4 linked regions of the Homo sapiens genome follow. The protein of the gene in region 4 interacts with the protein of the main gene of each other region in a pairwise test. Each region holds a gene or a part of one and is shown on either strand. Other genes may lie near its edges.

Region 1 (5,708 bases), on a different chromosome or scaffold from region 4:
AGTAACTTTTTAAAAGTTAAAACTTTGACTCTATTTTTATGTACTTACAGAGTATTTAAAGACCTGTAAGTGTGAAATATTGCATTCTGCCTTAAAAATAAAAATATGTTTACACATCAGAACTCTACACCAAGAATACTAACTAACAAAAGGAATTTATTCTGCTGCTGGGAATGTTATATTTAATTCATAATGCACTTTAAGTATACAGCAAGCCATTTAGTCCTTACAATATTAGTATTGTCCCAAATTAACAAGTGAGGAAACTGAGCAAATTAGGTCACTTGCCCTATGTCACACGCATGAGATGGCAAAGCCCGGGTTTTACTCCAGGCATCTGGTTCCAGAGGCCATGTGTTTCAGAGGGACACATCCCAAAAAAAATGACCTATAATAGCACTAATCTTCCATAGATAAGGAATGCTTAATCTATAAAGATATATATATATATATATATATATATATATATATATACACTATATATGTAAAACAATCTTTTAAAAAAAGTACATGGTAAAAGACTATATGATACCTACACAGACATATACACAAATGAGAACAGTTGGAAGTATTCCAAATTCAGAGGGAACAACGAAAGGAGCTAAAAAAGATAAGTAAATAATAAAAGGAAAAAATGGAATGAAAACTAACTGGCAAAAAATCTTAAAAGTAAAAATTGCAATTTAAACCACATCTTAAAATAAAAATGAGTGAACCAGAATTTTCTCTTGAAACAAAATCGTGTCCTAAGCTCCTATAGATGGATATAGGAGGCATCCAGCAAGCATTTAAATAAAGGAGGAGGGAATGAATGCAGGAAGGATGAAAGCACAATATCCCTTCCAAGAACATATTCCTAAATATGTTCAGAAAATCATCAAAGAGGAAATACTAATTACTGATTACACATTTTTATAATCCACCACTTAATAACTATTTGAGAAAACAAGTATAAATGTAAGTTAGCAGGCTAGTTCTCCAGCAGGCGTTTCTTCGAAAGACCTGAAGCCAGTGTGTTCTTCACTAATAGTTATGCCGTGTCTCTACCACTGATCAGTTTCTTTGAAATTCTCTCACTAATTCCGTCTCAATCTGCTGCTATTTCACATGTGAACTAGTTTTCACATCTCCCAGTTATTACATTGTTCTCTCCTCGTAAGATAACAACTTTAAAAAATTCTCATGATTGCTTTAAGCTCCAGCTACCATCTACCAGCCAACTTTCGCATTTCTCTTGAAAAAGTTTTCTGCTGTATAAATATGCTCCTATTTTCATACTTTTGTACCCCAAGTCTTCTCTTTGTTTGAAAATAAGAAGAACACACATTTCTAAAGTGCCTCGATAGAAAGTAATCTCTTTGAAAGTCGGAGCCGCGTTTGACCCACGCTTAGAACAGGACCTTGAATTTTGACAAACCTGCAAAAATTTACCAACCATTTACATTCTGCCTTATACTCTAGGAATGCAGTAAGTATTTATCCAGGTAAATGTTCAGCTCAATAAGCACCAAAACTACTCAGTATCAAAGCAAGTGAGCACGCTTTTAAACCGTGCACCCTAACAACTCAAATTCACCTCCATTAACTTAAATAATATTCAGCACCGTGCAAATGCATTTTCTCTCCCGTCTCTTCTTCTGAGACTGATTCCTTCAATGGCATTGCCGAAAGTGTATACAGCTCTGTAGAAAGACAAGTGTTTGAGTACTTCATCCAGAGAATCCAGCAGTTTATTTCTTATCTGCAGCATTATTTAACTGCACTAAAAATCACAGAGATATCACATACAGCGCTCAGGTTCCTGGTCACCTTGATTATTTGAGAGGGGCAGAAGTGAGGCTGCTGATCATCTTCATGAAGAGGCAGAGATGGCACCAATGATACCGTGCAGAGTTCTGTGCATTCATAAAAACGCTTCTTTAACAACAATCCACTAATTGCCTTTTTGGTACTAGAAAACTCTAAAGGAGTATGTGAGTTTCCTTTTTAGAAGAAAGGGTATTTCTGTCAGCGAGGCAACTTACAAATATGTAGAAAAAAGGGAAAGCTTAAGGCACCTTGTAAAGATCTTACCATTCATTTCAGTTATTCTGTTGATTATTTTTAAAAGGTGCTAAGGAAGAATGGGCAGAATGAGCTCCAAAGACTCTGTGGAGATTTAAAGTGACTTCCAAGGCATGATAGTTTTCAGTGTAGATGCTTTTTAAAACAGAACCATCAAATGGCAGTAAATATTAATAGAAGGAGGTCTAATCTAGGACTATTTTATCCTAGGTTAACTCCCAAAATTGCCAAGAGAAAAATGATGCTGAAGGCAAGCAAAAGTAAGCTCTATCTTATCTGTGATTAATTTAACACTGAAAATTCCTGCCAGAAATACTTTCTTACGAAATGAATAGCTGGAGGAACGAAAGATCAGACAAATTCAATCATGTATTTGAGAGTCTGAAACTACTGTCATAAGATTTACAGGGGATTCTGGGAATTACTTTGACATATTTGTAAAAACTTAGGGTTCATAACAATGTACTATACAAACCAAGATAGAAAGTCATAGAAAACTGAACAACAGCTAAGAATACAAGGGGGAAAAATCAATAAAATGTCTCTAAAGTAAAAAATTGCCTTGAATCAGTAATTTCAAATATTGTGGAAAGCAACAGGAGGGAAACTACAGCAGCGCCAACAAGAAACCTCTCGGCTTGGAGATCGCATGAAGTGGGGTTAGCTTGAAATCATTTTCCAAGTCTGTACAGTACAAGTTACGTCGTAGGTTTTTGAATGGTAGCCTGCTTGCCCAAGGAAGCTACTGTAGCTTCTAGAGCTGATTCACTTAAAATTAGAGAACAGCTGAATATCGAAATAATCAGTCTTTAAATCTCAGGCCTTCTTGCTGCAGAGAGATAATGGTTGTTACAAAAGGGAAAACTCAGACAATGGAGATTTTGTGTATTTTGCATAATGTCACAAATGGGAATTAGATTCTAAACCTTCCATTTCTGGTTGATTTCACTGTTTTCCAGTTCATATTGTCTACTTGTTTTTTTTTTTAAACATACACTTAAAAAATAAAAACAATCTAAAAAGAACTAATCACCAGATGCGTACTAGCATTAACATCATAATACTATTATTTGTACCTCATAATGATAGATAGGTGGGTAGGTAGGTGGATGGATGGATAGATGGATGGATGGACGGACGATGGGTGGCTGGATGGATGAATGGGTGGTTGGACGTATAGGTGGGTGGATGGGTAGGTAAGTGGACTGATAGGCAGAATCTAAGTTTATCCTTCTAGTATCCCTGTAAGAAAAGTGGCATCTTAAACAGCCGTGGTACATCCGAGACTTGAACCAGATCTCTGAGGCCCAAAGTCCACATTCACTCCGTACTCTATGCATCCTCTCTGAGTGGTAATGCAGAATGAATAAATATAACATTCTATAGAGACCTGAAAGCAACAAGTGCAAGAGAGGCTTCACACAGAGTCAGCCATCCAGCCATAGAGCCATTCTGGGAAACCATTTTTAAAAACATATACTGACAAGTTTACCCTACTGTGCACACAGATTAAATAATAATAATAATAAACTGCTTTTGACAGGTATCTTTCTAAAATGTATCATATCCCTGTCTTCTTAAGTAGAACACACCACTCATGATGACATCTCTCGCTGATGAATCAGGTGATGATAATACATATGTTGCTGCACTGTGCTGCTTTCAGGAGCCGTGAATGGTGAGCAGGGCTGTTCACATCTTCACAATGTAAGCACAAAAGGTTGTGCTTGTTCTGTTTCTCAGATCTGCATTTAATGAGTCTATTTCAACCCATACTGCTTGCTATTATGTGCTATTTCTTTAAATGTGTCAATCTTCCTCCTAATTTCCTGCTCATAATCTACAGGGACCTAGACACCAGTATCACAGTTTTGTGGCACTCTAAGTTAGAACAAATCCGCTGTAGGTGAGAGCCTGTCATTTTTGCTAATTTCCATTTATTGGCTGTACTCTACCTCAGTTAGATTGCCAGATAATTGAATTTTGAATAGGCAAGATAGTATTGTATTCTTGCCTGATATTTTGTAAAATAAGTTTTATTTAAGTATAATGTACATATAGAAAAATGCACGAATCATAGGTCTATAGTGCAATGATTTCCAGCAAACAGAGCACGCCCTTGTTAGGTGTACCCAGAAAACAAACAAGCCAACACAGTATTACGTGTTTTATCCTTTTCAAAGTATTCTCATATGCGCCACTTCACTACAGTCATTGCAACACTCTTATGAGGCTAAGCGGTTGGGTATTACCTGCAATTCAACAAATGTGGAAAATGAAGTTTGGTATTTAGCTTCACTGATTTCTGAAATCAGAAGGAGCACAGCAAGGATCTAATCCTAGCGTTCCATTGCGGGAATCGTCCCTTATGCTATCAAATTTACTCAGAAGATATGATATGGTAGCTTCACTTCTATTATCAAATTGTGGACAAGAGTAGAGCGAATATTCTGTTGGCACCACAGATACCAGTGGTTGTCTGCAGCCTGCGTCGGCTGTGGCTGTCCACTGTCCCCGCCATGCAGATTGTTAGCCATTTTTAATTTATTCCCTGGGAAGTCAAATGTCAACACAGTCCCTTGAGGAGAGGAAGGTGGCATAAATCACCACAATTATACCAAGCTTTCCAAAGGAAAGTGATGGTTCAAAGCCTAGATGCCTTCACATTGTCATTTCTTCCATTCTCTTCTTCCCAACATTTCATCCTTAAAGCCAACAAAATTAATTTAGCTGAAATGAGAGGTCTGAAGATCATCAAAACTTTTAATAAGCATACCAAAACTTATATTTGAATCAGCTATCCTTATCACTGTTTCAAATTACCATCCATTCCAGAAATCCTCAAATGGCTTGAACCGCACATATAAACAAAAAATCCCTATTAGAAAAATATGGAACTTCTAAAGCTGTGCGGATTAAAGGTCACTAAGGGTCTCCCATGCAGCTACAGGAATATCCTCTTAAGAGCACGTCTTAGCAAATAAAATACAAAGTGAGTGTAAGGAGTTCTTAAGTTCTTCTTCAGAAAACACAAGAAGTAAAATTGTTCAGGCGTGATCATTTTTTACTTTTTATTTTATTTTATTTTTTTGAGATGGAGTTTCACTCTTGTTGCCCAGGCTAGAGTGCAATGGCACAATCTCTGTTCACTGCAACTTCCGCCTCCCGGGTTCAAGCGATTCTCCTGCCTCAGGCTTCCAAGTAGTTGGGATTACAGCTGTGGGCCACCACATCCAGCTAATTTTTTGTATTTTTAGTAGAGACGGGGTTTCACCATGTTGGCCAGCTGGTCTCGAACTCCTGACCTCAGGCGATCCACCCACCTCGGCCTCCCAAAGTGCTGGGATTACAGGCTTGAGCCATCGCGCCCAGCCGTGAACACTTTTTAAAGGTTCTGCAGGATTCAAACTTCCCAAATGCTGCAGGTGTTGACAGCAAGGAAGCAGGGCGAGCTCTGGAGGCCAGCTCTGGGAATTCAACCGGGCTCACACCTACAGTCCCTGGGAACAATCTGCAGCCCCAGTTTCTCCTCTGTAAGGCGAGTTGACCACGGCGCCACAGCACAAGGCTGCACTAGGATTCAATTAACCCAGTGCTCACAACCTGTTTGGTCCAGAGAAAGTCGTTTTTATTGCTAGGAAGGA
Region 2 (6,222 bases), on a different chromosome or scaffold from region 4:
AAGAGTGAACACACTTGGCCTTACCTTTTAAGTTGGGTCGGTGCCCTGACCCTACCTCCCACCTTGCCTCCACTCCTCCCTGTCTGCCTTTCTCTGGTGCTATCTCTGAAGTCAACCCACCACATGCAGCAACAGACACTACAGATAGGATATCCCTGAAAAAAAAAAGACAATTAATCTAACCACTCACCCTGCCATCAGGAGCGGCACTGTTAGGAATGATACAGATCTGCTCCATAGAGGAACTGGGTTTGTGATAGGCAAGTAAAGGATACTGGTGTCTCCTGGGAAACATGCTGTGACCTCAATATGGGCTATGTATCTTGGTTATTGGAAATATATGTATTCTCATTGTTACAGACTTAATTTTTTAATACCAATGATTTAAGGAGCCAGACTTAAGTACAGAAAGGTCTGAAGAAGCGTTTCTTAAATTAAATCCAAACTCTTCAGTAAGACAAGGCCTGATTAAGAGTAGAATGTGTGCTAACTATTCAAAGAGCTGTAGGTTTTAAGCGCCTTTTGAAATCTCACTCTGCTGAGATCATTTAGTTCAAGTCAGTACTACAATTGTTTGTGACTGTCACCAATAAAGCCAGAGGTCACATAAGAACTGGTTAAATTGCAAGACTGCAGCAGTGGCAGGAATTGATGTCATTTAGATATAGTGTTATTATTATTTTTTTTTGTTCGGGTGCTGGGCTGTAGCGGACACATCAGGAGGTAGGAAAGATAGAACAGAGGATATGCCAGCAATTTAACATGCTCATGACCCTCCCCAGTGATGCTCTTAAACTGGTTAGGTTTCTGCAGACCCTGCCAGGATCACAGAAAAGGCCAGCCCTCTGTAGGATGCAGGAGGGGAGGGGTGCTTTTCTCCTTCCAGCAAAAGGAAGCAACTCCTACTTCCCTCAACCACCTTTCTCATGGTGGGCAATCCAAATTACTGAGCAGGGAGCCATGGCCTGACAGACCTGCTCTAAATACTCAATAAGTCAGGGACAGAAGGGGCCAATGTCAGAACCAGGAGGACCCATTTCTCCCCCATAGAGCCAGGAGTTGTCTCCCTTTTGCTTCCCTGTGCTGGAAATGAATGTTTATGATGGCTGCAAGGGACAATGTGTCAAAAATATTAAATGCAGTTTTCTAATCATAACCTGTTTTTCCCTAATATATAAGCTTTTCTTCAAAGGACACAATATTTTGAACAATGTATTCCAGAAAACAGCCACCACTACTGAAGTGAGTTAGAAAGTTTACTTCTTCTTAATAATGTTATGTTTCCCATATGATGGCTGGATACTCACAGTTGGAGGAGTTTCTTGTTTGTTTTTTTAGCTAAAAATCCTAGAGTTGGCCGGGCGCAGTGGCTCATGCCTGTAATTCCAGCACTTTGGGAGGCCGAGGCGGGTGGATCACTTGAGGTCAGGAGTTCGAGACCAGCCTGGCCAACATGGTGAAATACTGTGTCTACCAAAAATATAAAAAATTACCTGGGTGTAGTGGCGAGCGCCTGTAATCCCAGCTACTCGGGAGGCTGAGGCAAGAGAATCCCTTGAACCTGGGAGGCAGAGGTTGCAGTGAGCCTAGACCATGCCACTGCACTCCAGCCTGGGTGACAGAGTGAGAGACTCCATCTCAAAAAAAAAAAATTTCTAGAGTCACAGGCCACACCAAATACATATTACTATTTGCTAAAAATGGTCTGACTCCTTAGAAAAGCATTTTTAAGCTATATGGTTGTTTTACTGCTGCTATCTTTCCATTTTAATTCACTCTAATATTTGAATTTGCTCCCAAGGCCCAACTTGAAGAAACTGCAAAATTAACAAACAGGTGACTGAGCTCCTTCCTAAGCTGAAGTGGTCATCATGCCCCATGACCTGTGAGGGCTAGAGTTCAGATACTGCCCCCCACTCTGGTTTTGTTTCTTTGAAGACCTGACTAGGGGAATATTGAAATGAGAGTGGATTGAAATAGGAAAAATATTTTCAGGATTACAACACGATTTAGCCAAATCATTGCTTTAATTTTCACAGTTAATCCCAGGAATTCCCAGTCTTCGGAAAAGACCACAATATTTCAAAGCAATTTAGTTCAGTCCAAGCAGAATCTGCAATTTCTGCATTTACTCTCCGTCAACTGGAATTGGGTCTTCAGATGACCTGGAGATAAGTTTTTGACACAAAACCTACTGAAATGCTTCCATTGATTAACTCATTTTTTCAGCAAGGATTTTCTAAGCGACTACTACATAAAGCTACAGTGCTTGGCAAGGAAGGAAGTGGGATGTCAAGTACAGGTGGTGAGATTTCTGTGGCCTGATGTGGGCACCTCTGGAAAGACACGCATTGGAGCGCGACGGGGTAGCGATGGCATCCAGCAGCGTGGGTTCCCACAGCGCCGGCGCCCGGCCAAAAAGCGCGCCAGTAAAACTTTCCGCAATTCCCTCTGTGCCAAGCGCGTCCTGGGCAGCCGCACTTCGGAGGGGCAAAACTCACCCTAACTTTTGAGTGCAGAGTCAAACTTAAGGAATAGGTTAGAGTGAAGGGAAAGGGGAGCCCGGGCTGAGGAGGGAAAAGGCAGCGCATATCCCGGGGTCAGGGACAAGATCAGAAGACAAGGAAGGGCCCGATGCCAGCACCCAGCATCAGGAATGGTGCTCACCTGCGTTCCGGAGCTTGCGGTTCCTGAGCACGGAGAGGATCACCAGGAGGTTGCCCACGACGTCCACGGCGGTGGTGACGATGAGCACCGCGGACAGCGCTGGAGCCACCCAGGGAGGTCGAGGGGTCCTGGAGGGCCGCGCGCTGCCAGCCCCCGACCAGCCCGGGCGCACTGCCCACCCGCCCGCCTCGCAGCAGTTGGCGAAGGAGCCGTTCTCTGACATCGCAGACTCTCCCGCGCTGTGCTTTGGCCACCGCGCGGCCCCGGACAGCCGCAGGGCGCGCGCAGTACTGAGCCGGGCGCTCTCTTCCCTGCCCAGCTCGCGTGTGCAAGGGAGGAGGCCAGTGGGGAGGGGTCTGGAGGAGATAACTAATTAAGCGTGGGCAGGGGATGGAGAAAAATATAGGAATGGGAGGAGGACTTGGGGTGCAGCCGTTGTAGAAGGGAGTGCGTCCCTCAGCGGTGCGCTCAGGAACAGCTGGGACCGCACAGCTGTCTCTGCCACCCCGAGCCCAGCAGGTGCCTGGCCCACCTCAGGCTGCGGAGCGCGTCTAGCTTCTGTCCCTGAGTATATAGCCACACCCGAGACCCCGATTTCCTCCACAGCGTCCCCAAGAGAAGCTGTGTCTAGGTAGGGACGTCCAACCCAGGTTGATAGACTGGAGAAGGTGCTGATGGTAGGGACCTCCCATCAGTTGTCAAGAAAGGCAAGGTTTGACGTCCCATAGGGCTGTGCAGCCCGAAAGAGAATGCAACTCCTAAGATGTGGGGACAGAGCCCAGAACAAAGTAGGGTAGACTGTTATATTCTAGGGAGCTGCAGAAAAATACGAACCTAGCCATTTTCCAAGCACTCGCTGGGTATTGTGGGGGGCATTGATGATGTCTCTACTGGGTCCTCTTTATAAAGCCAATACTTTAACATATTTACCAACATATATTTACACATAATACTTAAATAGATGTATGGCCAATATTGGGGGTTATGATGTGGTTTTTGGAGGGGTTAGGACAAGAAGAAGATTGAGGCATGATTACAATAAAGAAGGAACTCAGGTGCCCTTTATTAAAAATGTTTGAGTCGTGATCTGGTGATAATAATAATAGATAACTTCTAATGGGGGCTAATCTTATGACCCCAAAGCACTTTTCACACCCATTAGAATCACTAAAATCAAAATGACTGATTATCCTATATTTGTGGAGGAAGTTAAGCAACCAGAACCCTCATACACTGCTTTTATGAGAATGCAAAATGGTATAGCCACTTTGAAGAGCTGTCTGTTAGCTCCTAATAAAGTTAAATATACACCTATTCTATGACCAGAAGTTCCAAATGAAAAGGAAAGTATATTTCCACCAAAAGACCTGTACAAGAATGTCCAGAGCAGCCTTGTTTATAGGAGCTCAAATCTGGTAACACCTGCAATTTCCACCAACAGAAGAATGGATAAGCAAATTATGGTATGACCTTGCAATGGAATACTACTCAGCAATAAAGATGATTGACCTACACAACAGCATGGATTAATCACAAATATGTTGTATTGAACAAAAGAAGCCAGATACCAAAAAATATATACCATATTATTCCAGTTATAGGAAGTCCAAAATCAGGGAAAATTAATCTATTTTCTAATAGAAATCAGAAAAGTGGTTACATTTGAGGGTGGGTATTGAGAAACAAACACCAAAAAATTTCTGGATTGTTATTTTTACATATGTTATTTTACGTAAGTTATATTGCCCCTCTCCTTTAAAGGGGGGAAAAAAAGAAGGAAGGATGCAGTGGAGACGGAGGGGCTGATGATGCAGAGGCATGAGTGGATGTTGAAGGGAAGGGAGAGGGAAGGGAGAGGTGAAGTGAGCTCATCCTTGAAGTGAGCTAATCCAGAACTCCTTAAAGTGAGCTCATCCAAAACCCAAGGAAGAAATATTATTTGTTAGGAGAGGGAGGCTTTCTTTCTTGTAGTAGAAAGGAATCAGAAGCCAGATGCAAATTCAGATGCACTTCTAAACTGGTGTGAGGAAAGAAGAGAACTCTTGTCTGGCTTCTGTATTCTCAGGGAGATAGAGGCTACCCATTAGCCAGGATTCAGGGGAACAGTGTAGGAGATTTGAAGACAAAAAAAAGATATGAAGGAGCACTTCAGAAAGTGGAAACATTAACTAGTAAAGTATAACAGGCGTGTCAGGAGCATGAATGTCCCCCTGCAGCTTGAGATGATGGCTTCAAATGATGCCACTCAGCCTGGCCAGTGGTTGTTAATCAGCAACTTGGAGCTACTCAGGACAGGCATGGAGAAGGCAGAGTGAATTTCAGTCAGGATTGGGGTCTGCTGGGTAGGAGCAAATAACAGAAGAAAGTTCAGGGGCCTGGTGAGAAGATGGATCCTGGGGTTTACATTAATGAGGGGTGATGAGAAAACAGAGGGGCTGATGGGCTGTGAGACAAAGGAAAAGTCAAGAGATTGCAGGCCCTGTGACTTCAAGGAATTGTGGTGAGTGAATCAGAAAATGTAAGTTGTGGTGCTGAAAGGGTGAGTTGTTTGAAACTGAGATGTCTGAGGCATGTAGATTCTGTTGCTGTGAAGGCTCTGAGGGTGATTATGGGTAGTGGGTTGCTGGTGGAAGGTGAGAAAAATGTTGTTAGAGATGAGAAGGTAAAGGAACTGAGAAGTCGGGGGTGGATATTATGGTGGGGTAAGAAAAGGAAAACTATGAGTCAGGAGGCGAATCCCCAGTGAATGAGGAGGAATGACCAACATGTCCTCAGGAGAGCAACAGCAAAGGGGAAAGAGACACCAATGGGCAGTGTCAAAGCCAAGAGGCTTTTTCAGGAAGAAGAGACAGCCACGCCTTCCCTGTCTTACAGGTGCAAACACATCGTGGCACTTCTCAACTTTCACACGCCAACATAGCAATAGGTGAGTTGGACACAGTATAAGTTACCTCCATCCAGACACACCCTCTAATAACACACATTTGTTAAACTGAGCATGAAACATAGGAATTTGCCCTATGCTGCCTTGGAATGTGATTGTCCATAATAGCATATCTCAAGATAGGCACAAAGAATTGGGATGTTCACCTATCTAAGAAGTCAATGCTACATCCTGGCATGGCTGGCCAGGCTGTGCCTTAAAATGGTGGGGGAATGATACAGCCACTTTGGAAGGCAGTTTGGTGATGCACTGCAAAACAACACATACCCTTACCATCGCATCGAGCAATTGTATTCCTTAGTACTTACCCAAGTGAGTTGAAAATATATGTCCACAGAAAGACCTGCACACCGATGTTTACAGCAATTTTACTTATAATTCCCAAACTTGGAAGCAACCAAGATGTCTTTCAATAGGTGAATAAATAAACAAACTGTGTGGCACATCCAGACAATGGAATATTATTCTGTGTTAAAAAGAAATGAGCCATGATGCCATGAACACTCATGGAGGAACTGTAAATGCATATTACTAAGTGAAATAAGCCAGTCTGAAAGGGCTACATACTGTTTCTTGATTCCAATTATATGACATTCTGGAAAAGGCAAAAT
Region 3 (5,708 bases), on a different chromosome or scaffold from region 4:
ACCTGTCAGTCATGAGAAATAAATGTGATAATTAACATGAAGGCAATCTGTAGACTGGAGAGTACTATAGAAATGTTTATTGTTATTTGCATTTGTAGATATAGATACTAAGGATTACAGAGGTTAAGCAACATGTCTGTGATCACGTAGCCAAAAGCGACAGAGCCAGGACCACCTGTATTTGAGGAAATGCCCGAAGGGACCATTTCTAAGTGGGGCACAATGTGGGTCTTGAATGCTGATTACCTGAGTGGAAGAACTCAGGGTGCTCTTTGCTTTAAAGGATGGAGTTAGGGGGAGAGGAGAGCTTTAGAGAATGCTACCTTCAGGAATAAAAGAAGGAATCTCTCTCAAGTAGCGTCTCAGAGGACAACATAGTATGAGGAGGCAGTGAGGTTCTAGAGTCTTGGTAACTTGTCTACAGCTTATTATTATTATTATTATTATTATTATTATTATTATTATTATTATTATTTGAGACGGAGCCTCGCTCTGTTGCCCAGGCTGGAATGCAGTGACGCAATCTCAGCTCACTGCAAGCTCCGCCTCCCAGGTTCACGCCATTCTCTTGCCTTAGCCTCCTGAGTAGCTGGGACTACAGGCACCCGCCACCATGCCCGGCTAATTTATTTTTTATTTTTAGTAGAGATGGGGTTTCACTCTGTTAGCCAGGATAGTATTATTATTATTTTTGAGACAGAGTCTCACTCTGTCACCCAGGCTGGAGTGCAGTGGCTTGATCTCGACTCACTGCAACCTCTGCCTCCTGTGTTCAAGTGACTCTCCTGTCTCATCCTCCAGAGTAGTTGGGATTACAGGTGCCCACCACCACGCCTGGCTAATTTTTCTATTTTTAGTAGTTTCACCATGTTGACCAGGCTGGTCTTGAACTCCTGACCTCAAATGATCCGCCCACCTCAGCCTCCTAAAGTGCTGGGATTATAGGCGTGAGCCACAGCACCCCGTCTATTTTTTTTTTTTGGGACGGAGTCTCACTCTGTTGCCCAGGCTGGATTGCAATGGCGCAATCTTGGCTCACTGCAGCCTCCGCCTCCCAGGTTCAAGTGATTCTCCTGCCTCAGCCTTCCAAGTACCTGGGATGACAGGCAGCATGTAATGGAGGCACCATGTGATGGAGGGCATCATGCTGGGCTAATTGTTGTATTTTTGTAGAGACGGGGTTTTATCACGTTCGCCAGGCTGGTCTTCGTCTCCTCACCTCAGGTGATCCACCCGCATCAGCCTCCCAGAGTGCTGGGATTACAGGCATGAGCAACTGCACCCAGCCAGTTATTATTATTTTTGAGATGGAGTCCCACTCTGTTGCCCAGGTTGGAATGCAGTGGTGCGGTCTCAGCTCACTACACCTTCTCCACCCGGGTTCAAGCAGTTCTTGTGCCTCAGTCTCCTAAGTAGCTGGGACTACAGGAGCGCACCACCACGCCTGGCTAATTTTTGTATTTTTTTTTTTTTTGAGACGGAGTTTCGCTCTTGTCACCCAGGCTGGAGTGCAATGGCTCACGGCAACCTCCGCCTGCTGGGTTCAAGCGATTCTCCTGCCTTAGCCTCCCGAGTAGCTGGGATTACAGGCACCCACCACCGCGCCCAGCTAGTTGGTTTTTTTTTTTTTTTTTTTTTTGAGATGGAGTCTCGCTCTGTCGCCCAGGCTGGAGTGCAGTGGCGCAATCTTGGCTCACTGCAAGCTCCGCCTCCCGGGTTCACGCCATTCTCCTGCCTCAGCTTCCCAAGTAGCTGGGACTACAGGCGCCCGCCACCACCCCCGGGTAATTTTTAATATTTTTAGTAGAGACGGGGTTTCACTGTGTTAGCCAGGATGGTCTCGATCTCCTGACCTAGTGATCCGCCTGCCTCGGCCTCCCAGAGTGCTGGGATTACAGGCGTGAGCCACCGCGCCCGGCCCTGTATTTTTTTTTTAGTAGAGACGGGGTTTCACCATATGTTGGCCAGGCTGGTCTCGAACTCCTGACCTCGGGTGATCCACCTGCCTCGGCCTCCCAATGTGCAGGGATTACAAGCGTGAGCCACCACACCCGGCCCCACAGTTATTATTGAATTACCCCCACTGTCTCCTCTAAGTCAGCGGTTTGCAAATCTGAGTGTGCATCAGAATCACCTGGAAGGCTGGGCCCTACCCACAGGGTTGTGATTCAGCAGGTTGGGGGTGGAACCCGAGAATCTGCATGTCTAACAGATTCCCAGGTGATGCTGCTGGTCTGGGAACCACACTTTGTAAACCACTGACTTAAGTCAGCAAAAAACCCTTTTGAGAAGTGCTCCTCTGGCTTTGAGCTGAGGGAGAACAGAAAGGCAGGGAGGAGCACCTCCTAAGGGGTTTGTGGTGGCTCCTCTTGGAGCCTCTGGGAGTCTCAGGCTGCAGGCACACTCTCTTGTCACCCCAGAGCTTCCTCCCTCCTGGGCCTCCTGGGCCTGTGCTGTCCCCAGGTTCTTCCACCTCTTACCTTGGGTGGTGTCCTCCATCTTGATGGGCACAAGGGGGCTCTGGGGCGCTGAGTCGCCGCTCAGGGAGTAGCTGTGCTCCGCCTGGATGCCTGGCGTAGGGGAGTCCAGTTCCATGTCCAATAGAGGGCTCTTCTCATCCAGCACAGGGTCATCAAAGAAGCTGCTGAACAGGTCATTGGAGAAGTCCTCCATGTTCTCCGTAAAGTGGTCCAGGTGCTCAGGAAAGTGCTAGGGAAGGAAGAGGTGAGGGGAAGAGGGAATTCAGCTTTGCTTGGGAAGGGGGTGCAGGTGCTACTGTGGTGGTGCAGCACCCCACCATGGCCACCACTGTCCCTGCAACCTCCCATTACTGTGCCCATTCCCATTAATATCAGCAACATCACCAATCTCCCCAGTACCAACATTGCAACACCAACTCTCATCATTTCCATCATGACCGTTACCACTGTCATCCCATTCTCTCTACCACCAGCTCCACGCTCACCATTGTTATCTGCAAGGGTGAGCTCAGGATGGGATCAAAAACTCCCTGGACCAGGCAACAGGACACTGGGCTCTGTGACCTTTGTCAAATCACTTAAACTGCGTGAGTCAGTTTCTCAGTCCTTCTTACTTCCTTCATAGGCTGATGTGAAGACAAAGTAAAAGAACAACCGTGTGTCTACGCCAACAAGTTTGTTTTCCAAAGGCAATATTAGTGAATTTTGTATGATCTTTTGCTGGAATGTGGGAAGGGAGTGATGCAGGGCAGTGGGATTCTTGAGGCCTCCAGTCTCCTCAGCAGCACAGTGTCCATCTGTCCTCAAGACTTCGGGGTCTCTCTCCTTTCCCAAGCCATCCTTTATATGGAGAGGTTAGGCTCCGGAGCCCTACTATTTAGGTTCGAATGGTGGCCTCCATCCTTCTAGCTATGATTCAGTGCTGTTTAAACTGTGGGTGGTGACTCATTAATGGGTTGTGAAATCAATTTAGTGGGTCACGACCAGAATTTTAAGTAAAAATAAAACAGAAAAAAAAAAGTAGAAAATATCAGAGTGCACAGCACACAGTGGAGTTAAATACCTGGCAATTAAAAAAAATCACAGTTGTGTGTGTGAACGCACATGTGTGTACTTGGTAATGATGTAAAATATATTTCTTAGAAACAAAAAAGTCTGAAAAATCTTGGTCTCCATGATCTTGGGAAGGTCAATTAACCTCTCTGTTTCATTTCGTCCTCTGTACAGCTGGTAATATTAATAGTTCCTACCTTCCAAGATTGTCATGAGGATTAAACAAGTTAATCCACGTACAGGCCTTATAACAGTCCCTGGCACATAGTAATTACTCAATAAACGTTGCCTCTTATTGTTAGTAAAGCACTCCAGTGGCTGACATATGGTAGGTTCTTGTACATTATTTTTCTCTCTCTAAAGAATTATAAATGTGTAAAGAAATGTTTCTTTCTCTCTCTTTCTGTCTTGCTTGTGAGAGTCTCACTCTGTCACCCAGGCTGGAGTGCAGTGGCATGATTTTGGCTCACTGCAACCTCCATCTCCCGGGTTCAAGTGATTTGCATGCCTCAGCCTCCCAAGCAGCCGGGACTACAGGTGCGCACCACCACGCCCAGCTAATTTTTTGTATTTTCAGTAAAGATGGGGTTTCACCATGTTGGCTAGGCTGGTCTCAAACTCCTGGCCTCAAGTGATCTGCCCGCCTCGGCCTTCCAAAGTGCTGGGATTACAGGTGTAGGCCACCGTGCCTGTCCAATAAATGTTTCTATTGTTTGTTCCTTATTTATTGAACGAATGAATTTGCTGGTGGGTCAGAAGAGATGGGGGATGGGGGGCTGCCTTAGGTCCTGAAGCCCTGCCTGCTGAGTGGTTAAAGGCTTGTGCCAGGGGATTCCTTCAAGGTCTGGAGTTGTTGGCCCTTTCTGGCCTGGAATATTGGGAGCCTGTCCCAACCTGGAAGGTAATGAGCAGAGAAGCCTTCTGTATGAGCATAAGGTTCAGGGCCACATGAGTCTGTCTGCATGGAGTAGGAGATGAACACGAGCTCTGGAGTCACATAGACGTGCTTTTGACTCCTAGCTCCACCACTTGCTAAGTTGCTTAACTTCCCCGTGCCTCAGTTTCCTTATCCGTAAGGGGAAAATAATAGTTCCTACCTCATAGTGTTGCCATGAGGATCTAAAATTTTGTTAGATTAGTACTCACCTCATAGGAGTATGAGGGTAAAATGAGTAAATACTGTACATATAAAACACAGAACAGTGCCTGCTACAGAGTGAATGCTCGATCATTGTTAGTTATCGTCATCATGAAAACTGCAGCCCCTAAACTCTGTCCCCGAGCTGAGCTTGGAACCAATGGTGGGAGTTGTGGGGGGAATGTTTGGCCTTTCCCTCCAAACAAAGCCTGATGAGATAATCCAGGACAAAATGAGCTCAGAAGCCCCATTGGCAGGGGTACTCTCCCACTTCCCAGTTTGCCAGCAATCAATCATCATCCTACATTTCTGTTGTGCTTTTAACCCAAAGTGCTCTCCTATGCATTATTTCATTTAATCTTCACAATTATCCAATGAGACAAGACAAATGCATATTGGCATTTGACAGAGAGAGAAACTGAGGCCAAGGGCGCTAATGCAGCAGGGAGGTGCCCACCATCCCTCACTGTCCAGTCTTTTACAACTGCAGCAGACCCTCCCCGGTCCGGTAATTGCCCTGAAGCAGGGTTTGCACCCTGTTCACCTGCTGCCTTCCAGCACCTGGCTCATGATACTGGTGGAGGGACAGGGCCTTAGAACCCAGATGGCAATGCCATCAGCATACCAATTGTCCATCAATACCTGGAGTGAGGCAGTACCAGGAGGTCAGAGCTGAATGAGTTTCTAAGAATCACTGTGATCCCAGACAGAGGCCATTTACAGGGTATAACCACCCCCCAACCACCCAGCCAGCCACAGCCAGGGCCGCGCTGGCTACACCCTCCGCAGAGCCCGGGCCTGCCGGCTGGGGGCGCTTCCGCCAGTTCTCTCCCTTAGGGTCTCTCAAAGGCCTGGTGTTGGGCCCAGTGGGAGGGGGCTGTGAGCAGAGGGAGCCGGTGAGTCAGCCGCTAAGGTATTTCTCCAGCAGCTGCTTCTCAGGCGATAAGGGTTTGCCAAGCCCCTTCCTGGGGCCTGGGAGAGGAAAGATGCTTCCTCGGATCTGGGCTGGACTCCCTGAAGGCCTTGGCTCAGGCAGA
Region 4 (5,708 bases):
CCAAGTTTTTTTTTTAAAGACAGGGTCATACTATATTTCCCAGGCTTGACTCCTGGGCCTAAGTGATATTCCCACCTCAGCCTCCCGAGTAGTAGCTGGGACTACAGGCATGAGCAGCCACCACACTTGGCTCCTCATAGATTCTGACATAACAGCCTCTAACCCCTCATAAGAAGCACTGCCACTTCAAATACAAATATCCTGGTGTGCTAGGTAGGAGAAAAGTTCCAAGAACCAACTTACTATTTTGAGCATCAAAATGCTCAAAATAGTAAGTTTTGCAAAATGCTTTGTTACAAAATAATTTAATCCCATTGATCAAAGACTATCTGAAAACCCTTAGGGGATGAATCAGTATTTAAAAAGGTGGGACAAGGGTGCTCTTAATATCCATATTGACTAGAAGGCACAGGAATACTCTCTTCCTACAATCCACAGTCAAATGCAGGAAGCTGATATTTGCATGGAATACAAGGGCTACCTGCCAAATGCTAGCTTCCGTTGTGCCGCCCTCTTTAAACTATCATCTATCATGCCCTCTTTAAACTACCATGCTCGCTATACTAGTTGTAAAAACAGACTGGTAAAGTCAGTTCACTCTGAAGTTGCCAGTGTCCTTCCAGGGTCTTTTTTTTTTTTCCTTTTTTTAAATTTCAGAGACACAGTCTCACTCTGTCTCCCAGGCTGGAATGCAGTGGCATAATTATAGCTCACTGCAACCTGAAACTCCTGAGCTCAAGTGATCCTCTTACCTCAGCCTCCTGAGTAGCTGGGACTACAGAGGCACACCGCCACCATGCCCGGCATTTTAAGTGAAATACTTTAAGACACGTTTGACCCTAAAGTATCACACTCACAGCATTGATCCCAGAGAGCTGCTGAGAGAGCTGGAGCACAATGGAAATGATGATGGGCTGTCGGTAGCTGGACACTCTAAAGAGCTCTAGCACGGTGACTTGCTTTTCTTGTGACATCCTTGCACTCTCATCTTTCATCTCCTGGATGTCTTGGGATACATCCTGGGTGCCCCACAACCGCTGGAGGACTGGTGAAAAGAAGAAAGAGGAAAGGATAAAAGAGAATGTGCTGCCCCAAATTCATTCTTCCTGTAAGGCAGCCAGGAAAGGGCCGCACGAGGTGAGGTGATGGGTAGCATCCATTCCTTTTTTTTTTTTTGAGACAGAGTTTCACTTTTGTTGCCCAGGCTGGAGTGCAATGGCATGATCTCAGCTCCCTGCAACCTCCACTTCCCGGGTTCACACGATTCTCCTGCCTCAGCCTCCCAAGTAGCTGGGATTACAGGCATGCGCCCCCATGCCCGGCTAATTTTGTATTTTTAGTAGAGACAGGGTTTCTCCATGTTGTTTCAGGCAGGTCTTGAACTCCTGACCTCAGGTGACCCGCCTCGGCCTCTTATAATGCTGGATTACAGGCATGAGCCATCACACCCTGCCTGATAGCATCCATTCCTAAACCCGCCTTTTCACCTCATTCTTTAGGGGCTGAAAATTTTACTCAGGAGTAATCAGAACCCTCCTCACTTGGATTCTGAGAGGCAGGGAAAGAGTGTAACAGAAAGTAGGTCCAGTACAATCATCCCTAAAACAAACCACAACCATATAATTCATGTAGTAAGGTGTGAAGGATACTCACTCTGCTTAGCATTCTCCTCTTCTTTTCTGTTAATGAGCAAAAATCTGGGACTTTCAGGGCAAAATGGAAGGGCTGCACTTTGTAGGATAGCAGGAAGGATGGTAAAACCCAGTAGCAGCGGCCATAGCTCTTCAGACCCAAGGATGAATTCCAGACCAAAGATCTAGAAACCACACAAAGATAATGCTATAAACCCCATACTTCACAGGCCACAAGTTCATTAAAACACAAAAAGTTCAGAAAATCATACATTCTTTTACCATGTGAAAAAATAAACAAATTGTGTTTCTTTTCCTTTCTCTACTCAGCATGGTTTTTTTTTTTTTTTTTTTTTTGAGACGGAGTCTTGCTCTGTCACCCAGGCTGGAGATCAGTGGCACAATCTCGGCTCACTGCAAACTCTGCCTACCGGGTTCACGCCATTCTCCCGCCTCAGCCTCCGGAGTAGCTGGGACTACAGGTGCCCGCTACCACGCCCGACCAATTTTTTGTGTTTTTAGTAGAGATGGGGTTTCACCATGTTAGCCAGGCTGGTCTTCATCTGCTGACCTCGTGATCTGCCCACCTCGGCCTCCCAAAGTGCTGGGATTACAGGCGTGAGCCACAGCGCCCGGCCTCAGCCTGCTTCTTCAGCTACTATCTATTATCTAAAACTTCCATATGTAATTGAACATGTGCCAGATATTCTTCAGTGCTTTACCTATGTTAACTTTTTTAATGACCCATGAAACTAACACTCATTAAGTATGAGAAGTTCTAGAGTACCTGGGCCACCAGAATTCCAACAACGATGCCCAGCTGGTTGAGAGTGCCAAAGGCACCCCGCAGGGCAGTAGGCGAGATCTCTCCAATGTACATGGGCACAAAACCTGTGCAGAGTCCGCAGAAGAGGCCAATAACCAAGCGACCCAGGATCAGCATTTCAACCGACTTAGCTACTTTACACAGTCCCATAAAGCAGCCACCAGTGACAGCCAACAGGTTGACAATCAGCATTGAATTGCGCCTGTAAGGTTAATCAAAGACAAAGTAGAATTAGCAAAGTGAGAGGCTCCTAACTTCTCCTCTGTCCTCATTATTCTGTTCTTCTCCAGGCTCATATCATCCCTTTTTTTTTTAATCTAACTTTTGTTTTTCACTTTCTATTATCAGAACATTTCTAGTTGGGAACCAGGTGTGATGGTGCCCGCCTGTAGTCCCAGGCACTCAGGGAGCTGAGGTCGGAGGTCGAAGCTGTAGTGAGCTATGATTGGGCCATTACACTCCAGCCCGGGTGACAGAGCAAGACCCTCTTTCTTGGGGGGTAAAAAAACAAAAGAACAACATAATCAAGTAAAACAGGTTGCTTTACCGATTTTTAAATGTGAATTCCAATTGCATTTCTAGAATATCTAATTGGCATTTTTTTTTTTTTTTTTTGGAGACGGAGTCTTGGTCTGTCACCCAGGCTGGAGTGCAGTGGCAGGATCTCGGCTCACTGCAACCTGCGCCTCCCAGGCTCAAGAGATTCTCCTGCCTCAGCTTCCAAGCAGCTGGGATTGCAGGCGCATGCCACCACGCCCGGCTAATTTTTTGTATTTTTAGTAGGGACAGGGTTTCACCGTGTTAGCCAGGATGGTCTCGATCTCCTGACCTTGTTATCTGCCCGCCTCAGCCTCCCAAAGTGCTGGGATTACAGGCGTGAGCCACGGCACCGGCTTTTTTTTTTTTGAGACGGGGTTTTGCTCTTTCGCCCAGGCTGGTGTGAAGTGGCCAGATCTCAGCTTACTGCACCCTCTGCACCCCCACTGCAGGTTCAAGTGATTTTCCTGCCTCAGCCTCCGGAGTAGCTGGAATTATAGGTGCCTGTCACTACGCCCGGCTAATTTTTGTATTTTTGGTAGAGACAGGGTTTTGCCATGTTGGCCAGGCTGGTCTCGAACTCCTGACCTCAGCTGATCCACTTGCCTCGGTTTCCCAAAGTGCTAGGATTACAGGGGTGAGCCACCACACCGTGCCTAATTGGCAAATTAAAACAGTTCCTTCATTAGTCATAAATGAAAATATATTCTACCTTCTAAAACATATTGTTAAGCTTCTATAGAATAAGACTTTTTTTTTGTCATTATCCACATTTGCCATAGACAAAAATAATTCCTACCAATCCTGGGTAAAATAATAAAAACATTTATAATACAAGTAAACAACTTCGGACCTTGTAAATTAAGTATGTTTCTAGAAACCCCATAGTTGAGTTTACTAGGGAATAATTCTGAACTATCCCTAGCTGGACTGCAAAGGCCAATCACTCACAGTTCATCTCTTGCACAGCTGGGTGGGAGCTCTCCAGGGTAGTAGAGCTCCAAGCAAGGGCAGTCATATTCGGGGCCAGTTGGACTAGGTTTCCCTTGATTAGAATTCAAGGTGTTCTTATTCAAAGGCATCATCACCTCCCTGCCCTAACTCTCCACACTTGTCCTCAATGTGGCTGGTAGAGCCCACTTCCTTGCCCAGTTTCTAGTCAATACCTGCCAAAGCGGTTGACGAAGAGTCCGACGGAAAAGGAGCCGATCATACCCCCGACGGAAAATATGGCCACAGACAAGGACCAGAGAGACGTGAGCAGCACCTCAGAGGGTGGGGCATTTCCCTTGTCCGTCAAAGTTTTATTGATAAATTCCTTTATGATCTGCAAAATAAAAGGGTTGGTGGAAGAACAGACTGTTACAGTTGGATGAGAACAAAAGACAAACATTAGGGATCATTTCCTTCCTAGAGAATCAAGGGAATAAATAGACAGGAATGGAAGGGGCAGATAACGTATTGGAATTTATGTTAACTCTCGCTGGAATAGTAATTCTATTTGTCCTGAAAATCCCAGTAGGTGGCAGCACCGATGTTCACAGTCTACCCCAGCCCTCTGCTAAGGGAACCCAGCTTCTTTGTAACTAACCCCTAAGGGATAATACAGGATGTGCATCACTATGAGGTGAAAGAGTGGGAGGAAGAACAGCACCGCCCAGCGTTCCGGGAGTAAGTGAGCTTTGTGCTTCGATTAGATGACCCCACTAATTTTCCCCACCAATATTGTCTCCATCTTCAGTCTTGGACAGGATAGATACAAAGTTTGTCTTAAAATCCCCTAGTTTGGGGAGGGACCCTCACTAACTGTGTTGCTCAGGATGGTGTTTAACTCCTGGACTCAAGTGATCTTTAAGCCTCAGCCTCAGGAGTAGCTGGGACTCCAGGCAGATGCCACCATGCCTGGCCTTAAATTCTGAATTCCTGAAACCCTACTTAAAGGAATAACTTCCCTATTCTAAATTCTAATTATTGTGGCCTGGCACTCACCTTCTCAGGAGCATTGATGACCCCAGTGTTGTAGCCAAATTGGAAAGAGCCGATTGTAGCAACTGTGATGGCAAATATCAGAGCTGGGGTGACCTGGAGGGAGGGAAGACAGAGGAGAGAATAGTCCTTAAAACTTGTGATTGATGACTGTTTCTTATTAATTATGGAGCTGTATTAGGAGAATTTGAGTTATGAGTGGTATGAAAAGAACATCCAATGAGATTTAGGTAATTAATGGGGAAGACAAAGGAATAGATTATACTAAAGAACTTATCTGGAGATAAGAATGTGAAGTTAACTTGGTAAAAATGAAAGAAAATTGGGGAAGGAAGAAGTTAAGAGAAACTGGGTTGGTCAGTTTGGAAATATTTAAAAACTTGCATCAGGCAAATGTAGGCATAGAATTCCACTCACGAACTGGGAGGGCAGAGAAAAAGACAGTCTCGGGTAGGATTACTAAGAATTGACCATTCTGGAAACAAATACAGTGCAGTCTGATCTGTACCCCAGACTCCACGGAAGCCCACTGGTGGTGGTGGAGGGGGTGGTAGTTTGTGTCTTCACTGCTGGGTGGCTCTTTGAGTCTCTTATCTCTCAGGACCATGTAACCTACTGGATCTACTCACTGCATCCTGGCCCCATTTCAGTCTTCGTTTATTAAATACAGTTCTGCTATCCCTAACTCCCGCGCAGGGGAAGAAAGTACTTACTCTGAACCCAACATA

The links.
Region 1: the proteins of SLC2A3 (region 4) and MTNR1A interact in a two-hybrid assay, tested with the Homo sapiens proteins (one large-scale study listed by BioGRID and IntAct).
Region 2: the proteins of SLC2A3 (region 4) and MTNR1B interact in a two-hybrid assay, tested with the Homo sapiens proteins (one large-scale study listed by BioGRID and IntAct).
Region 3: the proteins of SLC2A3 (region 4) and CREB3L1 interact in binary tests that used the Homo sapiens proteins (3 or more experiments, as listed by UniProt).

Annotation. Positions count from the first base shown.
Region 1 is NC_000004.12:186,548,374-186,554,081, forward strand, and holds part of MTNR1A (melatonin receptor type 1A), read right to left. Parts: intron 1-5,708.
Region 2 is NC_000011.10:92,966,394-92,972,615, reverse strand, and holds the start of MTNR1B (melatonin receptor type 1B), read right to left. Parts: upstream 2,966-6,222; 5' UTR 2,891-2,965; coding exon 2,668-2,890; intron 1-2,667.
Region 3 is NC_000011.10:46,296,936-46,302,643, reverse strand, and holds part of CREB3L1 (cyclic AMP-responsive element-binding protein 3-like protein 1), read right to left. Parts: intron 2,710-5,708; coding exon 2,481-2,709; intron 1-2,480.
Region 4 is NC_000012.12:7,928,827-7,934,534, forward strand, and holds part of SLC2A3 (solute carrier family 2, facilitated glucose transporter member 3), read right to left. Parts: intron 5,077-5,708; coding exon 4,984-5,076; intron 4,322-4,983; coding exon 4,161-4,321; intron 2,660-4,160; coding exon 2,419-2,659; intron 1,817-2,418; coding exon 1,654-1,816; intron 1,046-1,653; coding exon 858-1,045; intron 1-857. UniProt on the Homo sapiens protein: Facilitative glucose transporter. Can also mediate the uptake of various other monosaccharides across the cell membrane. Mediates the uptake of glucose, 2-deoxyglucose, galactose, mannose, xylose and fucose, and probably also dehydroascorbate.